Homo sapiens: one gene and its partner. The protein of the gene in region 1 purifies or fractionates together with the protein of each later gene. This does not show direct contact. Each region holds a gene or a part of one and is shown on either strand. Other genes may lie near its edges. The genes, in order: MGST2 and CST8.

The links.
Region 2: the proteins of MGST2 (region 1) and CST8 purify together in Homo sapiens (affinity purification with mass spectrometry; one large-scale study listed by BioGRID and IntAct). This does not show direct contact.

Annotation. Positions count from the first base shown.
Region 1 is NC_000004.12:139,664,435-139,668,763, forward strand, and holds the start of MGST2 (microsomal glutathione S-transferase 2), read left to right. Parts: upstream 1-1,384; 5' UTR 1,385-1,585; coding exon 1,586-1,643; intron 1,644-4,329. UniProt on the Homo sapiens protein: Catalyzes several different glutathione-dependent reactions. Catalyzes the glutathione-dependent reduction of lipid hydroperoxides, such as 5-HPETE.
Region 2 is NC_000020.11:23,489,622-23,494,047, forward strand, and holds the start of CST8 (cystatin-8 precursor), read left to right. Parts: upstream 1-1,495; 5' UTR 1,496-1,721; exon of another isoform or gene 1,722-1,788; intron 1,789-1,903; 5' UTR 1,904-2,046; coding exon 2,047-2,277; intron 2,278-3,336; coding exon 3,337-3,450; intron 3,451-4,426. UniProt on the Homo sapiens protein: Performs a specialized role during sperm development and maturation.

The DNA of each region.
Region 1 (4,329 bases):
ATGGGATCTGTGCCCTTATAAGAAGTGACCAGGAAGCTTACTCTTTCTCTGTCTCCAACATGAAGGTGTCCTTCTGCAAACCAGGAAGAGGGCCCTCACCAGGAACTGATTGGCCAGCACTGTCATCTTGGACTTCCCAGCCTTCAGGACTGTGACGAATAAATTGCTATTGTAAGCCACCCAGTCTATGGTATCTTTGTTATAGCAGCTTGAGCCAAGATATACCCTCTAATGGTGCTGTAGGATGGGGTGAGGAAAGGCCCCCAGCTCTGGTTTTTGGGAAGCTGCATCTTTATTTTTATTATTTGTTTGAGACAGGGTCTCACTTTGTCACCCAGGCTGAAGTGCAGTGGAACGACCTTGGCTCACTGCAGTCTCAGGCTCCTGGGTTCAAGCAATCCCCTTGCCTCAGCCCCCTAAGTAGCTGGGACTACAGGCACGTGCCACCATGCCCTGCTAATTTTTGTATTTCTTTAAGAGATGGGGTTTTGCCATGTTACCCAGGCTGGTCTCGAACTCCTGAGCTCAAACCATCTGCCCATTTCAGCCTCCCAAACTGTTGGGATTACAGGCATGAGCCATCCTTCCAGGCCAGAATCTGCATCTCTAAAGAGCAGATTCTCCTGCCTCAGCCTCCTGCGTAGCTGGGACTACAGGTTCGTGCCACCATGCCCAGCTGATTTTTTGTATTTTTAGTAGAGAAGGGGTTTTACTGTGTTAGCCAGGATAGTCTTGATCTCCTGACCTCGTGATTCACCCTCCTTGGCCTCTTAAAGTGCTGGGATTACAAGTGTGAGCCATCGCGCCCGGCCGGTTTATTTTTTTAAAAATGGCTGGGCACAGTGACTTGTGGCTGTAGTTCTAGCTACTTGGGAGGCTGAGGCAGGAGGATTACTTAAGCCCAAGAGTTGGAGGCTGCAGTGAGCTATGATCGTGCCACCACACACTCCAGCCTGGGTGACAGATCAAGACCCTGTCTTAAAAAAAAAAAGTATGATTATTATCAGAGTCTCTAGGTGACAGTGAGAGGCAGCCTGGTGCAGGGGATAGGGCACAGTTGTAATCTGCTAGACTGGGTTCAAATCCTAAATCGGCCATTCAGAGCGTGAATACATTAGAACTGGCTTAAATTAGCATTTAAAATGTCAACAGGATTAAGTAAGTAGTTCCTTCTCACTTTTTCCACAGGAGGTGAGAAAGGTCTCAGCAAGGCCCTAGGAGGGAAGGGCGTGGGGATGAAAGGGATCCAGAGAGTCTGTGCATTGGCAGAGAAGATAGTGTAACTGGCACTGCGGCTGGAGGGCTGGTCCCACAGTGAGCTACAGCCCTGCCCGCTGGCCGTGGGAGAGGCTTAAAACAAACGCCGGAAGCAACTCCCAGCCCCATAAAGATCTGTGACCGGCAGCCCCAGACCTGCCTGCCTTCCTGACTTCTGTTCCAGAGCAAAGGTCATTCAGCCGCTTGAATCAGCCTTTTCCCCCCACCCGGTCCCCAACTTTGTTTACCCGATAAGGAAGGTCAGCATTCAAAGTCAAGAAGCGCCATTTATCTTCCCGTGCGCTCTACAAATAGTTCCGTGAGAAAGATGGCCGGGAACTCGATCCTGCTGGCTGCTGTCTCTATTCTCTCGGCCTGTCAGCAAAGTAAGAGGCATGGGAAGTTCGTGTGTGTGCGCGTGTGTGCGTGTGTGTGTGTGTGTGACAAGGCTTGCGGGAGAGAGAGGGAGGGAGGGAGATGGGTCCGGTGTTTTGTTTCCTACTTGCCCTTGCAGGTAGCTCTGGGTCCTCAGAGCACAGTCGCCTCAGGGTCACCCATGCCGCCTGCTACCCTCCTTCCCAGGGGCAAGCAGAGACTGAGAACATTCCAGAGATTAGTTCTCCCAACTGGAACGCTGTGGGGCCTCAGAGCTCAGCGATTCTGCATCATCTGTGATTACGACCCACAGCCCGTTCAAACGAGCGTTAGTAGCCTGCTAACCTGCAGGAAGTGGTGTGAATATTAATTACAAGTGTTCCAAAGGAAACGTGCCTGCTTCTAAACCTGGTTGTGATTTCTTGAACGTTGATGTTTTAATTAATGTGTTTTCTTAAATAAACTGCCTATGGTGGTATGATTATCAGATTGAAAAAAACTTCCTTCAGAAATATTAGCTTTAGATTAAGTAATTAGCTCTAAATTTTAAAACAGCTTCCCACTAGGATTATTCAATATCTCGACTGCCTGGTTAAATAGAGGGCTTTTACTCCATGGGAGTCACATTTGCTCAATTCATATTATCTTACCTACAATGTCAGCTGGGGAAAGGGGTCCGAGTGCAAGAGTGCAAGACTTCTTACCAAGCATGCATATTTCTTTATATTTCCAAGTATGCCTGTACCAGGAAATAGGGCCAAGCCGTAGACTGCTCAGGTTACACAAACAGCCAGAAGCAGGAAGGCCTCACAGCTGAGGATCCAGTCCAGGCCTCCGTGCATGCTCAATGTCTTGCCTAGCCAGTCTGTTTTGAGATTGTATGAAGATCTTGAACCTTCAGACTCACGTTTTGTGGTTTGATTCACACAATCTGTTGTGGAGAAGAGCAGGATATTTGTTTCTAATTAAAGAAGCACTTAGATCTGTTAAAAGGAAAACCCTAGACAAATTACATTTAACTGAGTTTAATTGAGCAAAGAACGATTCACAGTTGGGCATGGGGAACCGGAATAGGTTCAGAGAGACTCTGGGGCTGCCACGTGGTAGAAGAAGATTTATGGACAGAAAAAGGAAAGCGACTCCCAGAAAACGGAAGCATATAGTTCACGATGTACGGAGAAACCTTTAGGCTGAACTTAAAATATGTCAGAAGGCAGCTTTAGGCTAAACCTAATTTAGCAGGTCTAAGGCTCACTGTTGGTAGCATCCTGACTCACAGGTGCTACCAAACCTGCATGCGCCTTTATCCTAGGCCTGCAGGTCCACAGATGTCCCAAAGCTGACAGAGGTGCTCATCCTCCCTGTTTGCTGCTTGTGCAGGGGGCTGTGTGAACTGGGGCCAGAATGTTAGGGGGCTGGATGGAGTGGGGGTAGGGGTGGGGAGAGAGGAGAGGAGACTGGGTGAATGATGATTAATGGTGGACAGGGAATGTTTAATGACAAGGTGTTAGGGCCGGGCACGGTGGCTCACCCCTGTAATCCGAGTACTTTGGGAGGCCAAGGCAGGTGGATCACGAGGTCAAGAGATCGAGACCATCCTGGCCAACATGGTGAAACTCCGTCTCTACTTAAAATACACAAATTTGCTGGACATGGTGGCACGCTCCTGTAGTCCCAGCTACTAGGGAGGCTGAGGCAGGAGAATCGCTTGAACCTGGGAGGGGGAGGTTGCAGTGGACTGAGATCACAGCACTACACTCCAGCCTGGCAACAGAGCGAGACTCCATCTCAAAGAAAAAAAAAAGATGTTGATGAAGAGTTGAACTTTGTAAAATAATTGAAAAGCTGTATTCTGAGCCAAACATGAGGGACGAGTGGCCGGTGACACAGCCCAAGGAGATTCTAAGAACATCTGCCCAAAGGGGTCTGGCTACAGATTGGTTTTATACATTTTAGGGAGACATAAGACATCAACCAATTCATGTAAGATGTACATTAGTTTGGTCCCAAAAGGCGGGACAACTGGAAGTGGGGCATGGGCTTCCAGGTCATAGGTGGATTTAAAGATTTTCTGATTGGCAATTGATTAAAAGAGTTTATCTACAGACCTCAAATCCATAGAAGGGAGTGCCTGGGTTAAGATAAGGGGTTGTGGAGGCCAAGGTTCTTACTATGCAAATGAAGCTTCCAGGTAGCAGCGTTTGGAGAGAATAGATTGTAAATGTTTCTTATGAGACTTGAAAAGGTGCCAGACTCTGTTAATTCTCTCCTGGATCAGAGAAAAGACCTGGCAAGGGAAAGGGATTTTCTACAGAATGTAGACTTTCCCCACAAGAGACAACTTTGCAGGACCATTTCAAAATATGACAAAGAAATATATTTTAGGGTAAAATACTTCAATTTCTTTCAAGGCCTGCTATCTGTCATGTGATGCTATACTGGAGTCAGGCTGGAATTTGGTGTCTTATTTCTACAAAAAGTCTTAAGTGTTAGATTTTTTAAAGGGAAGGTGGGGTTCAAGAAAGACACAGAGAGAGAGAGAGAGAGAGGAGGGGGAGGGGGTAGAGGGGGAGAGGGAGAGAGAGAGAGGCTTTACAACAACACAGGTTTATTACAAAAACCTGTGGAGGTGGGGGACCAGCTTAATGCCAGAGCCCGCCATTGCTTACAGGCTGGGGTATGTACAGGTATGGGCAG
Region 2 (4,426 bases), on another chromosome or scaffold:
TATGTGTTTTCTGTACGTTGCCCTTGCTCATAGAACCCATTGATCTTTGCAGCCTAGGAAGAATGCTCACCTCTCTGCCTCACCAGGAACTTTCTGGACACTGATTTGGGATTTTCACAGAAAAGCAGAAGCTTTGAGAGCTTAACAGGTGCGTGCCCCCCTCCTCCCACTAAGGGCCAGGCCTGGGCATCAGAGTGGGCCACGTGACCCTTACCCTGGCAGGACAGGGCAGGGGGTTACTGTTGGCCCAAGCCAAGGGAGTTCAGAGGCCAGGCATTCAGGAAGCCAGAGTCATTGGCACAGGTGGGCAGAAGATGCCAGAGGGGCCCTGTATTAGTCAGGGTTCTTTTAAAGGGACAGAACTAATAGGATATATATGGTTGTGTATATATATAAAGTTAATACTTAATAAACTCCCCTTTATATATATATAAAATATATATATAAATTATATATATATTAATTATATATATAATATATATATAAATTATATATATATTAATTATATATATAATATATATATAAATTATATATATATTAATTATATATAATATATATATAAATTATATATATATTAATTATATATAATATATATATAAATTATATATATATTAATTATATATATAATATATATATAAATTATATATATATTAATTATATATATATAAAATATATATAATTTATATATATAAAATATATATAATTTATATATATAAATTATATATAAAATATATATAATTTATATATATAAATTATATATAAAATATATATAATTTATATATAAAAATTATATATAAATTATATATATAAAATATATATATAAATTGTATATATATAAAATATACATATAAATTATATATATATAAAATATACATAAATTATATATATAAATAATATGTATATAAAAGGGAGTTTATTAAGTATTAACTTACATGATCACAAGGGCCCACAACAGGCTGTCTGCCAAACTGAGGAGCAAGGGGAGCCAGTCTGAGAGTCCCAAAACTGAAGAACTTGGAGTCTGATGTTCGAGGGCAGGAGGCATCTAGCATGGGAGACAGATGTAGACTAGGAGGCTAGGACCATCTCTCCTTTTCACGTTTTTCTGCCTGCTTTATATTCGCTGGCAGCTGATTAGATTGTGCCCACCAGATTAAAGGTGGATCTGCCTTCCCCAGCCCACTGACTCAAATGTTAATCTCTTTTGGAAACACCCTCACAGACACACCCAGGATCAATACTTGGTGTCCTTCGATCAAATCAAGTTGACACTCAGTATTAACCATTGCAGGCCCCTGACTCTGAGGGCACAGCAGGAGGCATTTGCTTGCTCTCTGTGCCCCTGTGAGAGCTGTTTAGACCAAAGGCCGGAGGCTGGCAAGTGGGAGATGTCCTCACTGGGACAAGACACAGGTGCTGAATTACATCACAAAGCGTAACCTCCCTGCAGGGCGTGGACTCAGAGGGGCAAGAGAGACCGCAGACCAGGACCCACAGAGACCCTTGACTGGGCCACAGGCATGAACTAAGAGTGCTGAAGACCTAGGAGAACCACTGGTCAGGTCAGCTCCCAGCTCCACAGGGAGTAAGAAGGAGCTGCAGGCACAGCAGGCTGAAAGTCCACCAAGGGCTGAGGCCACAAGGCCTCTGGGGCAGCCACAGTTTTCATGATCACATCATACAGGACTGAGAAGCAGATAACAAGAGTGACGCTCACAGGGGTAGGCATAGACACACTGGGGCCGAAGGGGAGAGGAACTCTCCCTAGACACACAGATTGCTCTCAGGGTAAGGAGGGGAGGCTGGTAGAGAGACTCCTTAACTGGCATTCCTGGGTGGGTTTCCATGGAGAAAGAGAGGACAAACCCCAAAGAGTGACCCTAATGGCCTGTCTTGAATCCAGCTGGGCTGACGCTAACAGGAGGCAGTGTGTGGCTCGAAGATTCTTGAACCCACAGCAGCAGCTGCGGCCACCCCATCCTGCCCACAGCTCCAGCCCTGAGACGACGAGGAGGAGAGTCGACTTTGCCTCTTGCCCAAGGGACCATGCCCAGGTGCCGGTGGCTCTCCCTGATCCTCCTCACCATTCCCCTGGCCCTGGTGGCCAGGAAAGACCCAAAAAAGAATGAGACAGGGGTGCTGAGGAAATTAAAACCCGTCAATGCCTCAAATGCCAACGTGAAGCAGTGTCTGTGGTTTGCCATGCAAGAATACAACAAAGAGAGCGAGGACAAGTATGTCTTCCTGGTGGTCAAGACACTGCAAGCCCAGCTTCAGGTAAAGGTGTCTTTCCATATAGGTGGACATTTGCATATGGTGGCACAGTTGAAGCCAGACTGAAAGAGTGGGCATATAAGAAAAATATCACTATGCAAAAATCCTAAATATGTGAATGCTTAAGAGCCTAGACACTTCCACAGCATCAATAAGGCAGTGAACACACAGAGCACTTTCTACAAACGCTTGCGCTTTTGTTCTAAGTCCTTCGCATAGATTAACTCATTTAAACCCCAAACTGCAAATCAAATGTTCATGTATTTGCTAAGGTTGGGAGACAGATAGAATGCTAGCCATGAGAAAAGATCTGATAAAGGTGAGTCCAGGTGAACCTGGACCCAACTAGCAGACACTCCTTCATCTCCTGCTGTAATCCTTTAATGCCAGATGAAAACAGATTTAAATGGACATCACAAGTAGCCTTGATTGCATTCAGTCACTAATGAGTTCAACAAATACTAATGTCCTGCTATAAACCTACTGCTGTTCTACTCACTAAAGACTCAGCAGAGAACAAGACAGGCAAACTCATGCCTGCATGGGTCCTCATGGACTGTGTGCTGAGCTGGTGGGAGGGGCTTTGGGTGGGGAAACCCCAGAGGATGGGAGGTTTCACAGGAATCTGAGGGACTGGGGCCTAATGTGGCTGAGGGGGCTGTCCCCTGGTCAGGCCTGTGTGAACCTGAGCATCTCAGGCCCAGGAGAGCTGATGGTTCTGAAGAGCCCACCTTTCACCTCTCAGTCCTCACTGAGCATGCAGCATGCCCTGGGCTTGGGGACAGGAAATGGAATGAGAAGGCCTTGCTTTCAAGGAGGTGACAAACTGGAGAGGAGTCTTTACTCAAGTGTCCAGCTCCAGGAGCCTATGGAGTCCTGACTGATCTTGTTGTACACAGGGCTCCAGGCAGTGGGCATCTTAGCCTTCCGCTAAAGCTCTGTCTGGGGGTGAGGGAGGAAGGAAAGAGGAAAGGACGAGAGTAAGAGTAATTTTTTTTTTTTGTCAAAACTTTAAAAAAGTACAACTCTTTTGAATAAAATTGCATAATTGCTAACCAACAGGTCACAAATCTTCTGGAATACCTTATTGATGTAGAAATTGCCCGCAGCGATTGCAGAAAGCCTTTAAGCACTAATGAAATCTGCGCCATTCAAGAAAACTCCAAGCTGAAAAGGGTAGGTGATGAACCACTCATCTGTGACGGCCTAGGCAGCTCTGAACCCAAGAGAGAAAGCTGAGGCACGCAGACCTTCTCTTTGAGGTCTGGGTGGCTCCCAGTGTTTAGCCCCAGATAGCCAACCCTGTGGCCTTTATAGCAGAAGATCCAGGGCCACGGAACGTGGTGGAACCCTCTGAGCTTCTTTCTCATCCTTCATCCTGCAGAAAGGATGTTGTCAAGACCACTCTTATCTCAAGGGCTCCATTGACTTCTGGCCTTTTGATGCAGGCACACTGGACAACACATAATCACCAAAAGCCTGTCCTCTTGGGTCCAGACAAGCCACCCACTATTGCTGGGCCCATGGTCACTCATCCCCATACAGACACAAAAGGAACTTCATTCATTCACTCATCCACTCATAGAAAATTACTGAGCACCAGGTGCTACGTGCTTTGCACCAGGTCTATTCTGGGTGCTGGAGATTAAGCAATGACTAAGCCAGAGGGTGGCCCCACCCTCCTGGGTTTACAGTTGATTTTTGCTGGGGTCAGTCCAGGTTTCCAGGAAGGTTGGGGCAAACCCACAGACTCCCAACAAAAGGAGGACTTGGCCCAGGGGCTTTTGGCTTCAAGCCTGTATTTTTTATCTCAGAGCAGCTCATAGGCCAGTACTTGGTCCCAGACAGATGAAGGCCTGAGCATTCTGCAGGTTTGCCCAACAGGTGCATCACTGTCCCTGTCTTTACATTGGTGGTTCTCCAATGTGAGCAGGCATCACAATCACTTGGAGGTATTGACAAACCCTGATGACCGGGTTCCACCGGCAGAGTTTCCAATTCAGGAAATGGGATCTAAGAATTTGCATTCTTAATGAGTTCCTGAGTGGTGCTACTGCTGCTGCTGCTGCTGGCCTTAGGATCATTTTGAGAACCACTGCTTTATGCACTGCCATGGCACAGGAAATTGCAGGTACATTTATGAACTGCCCTG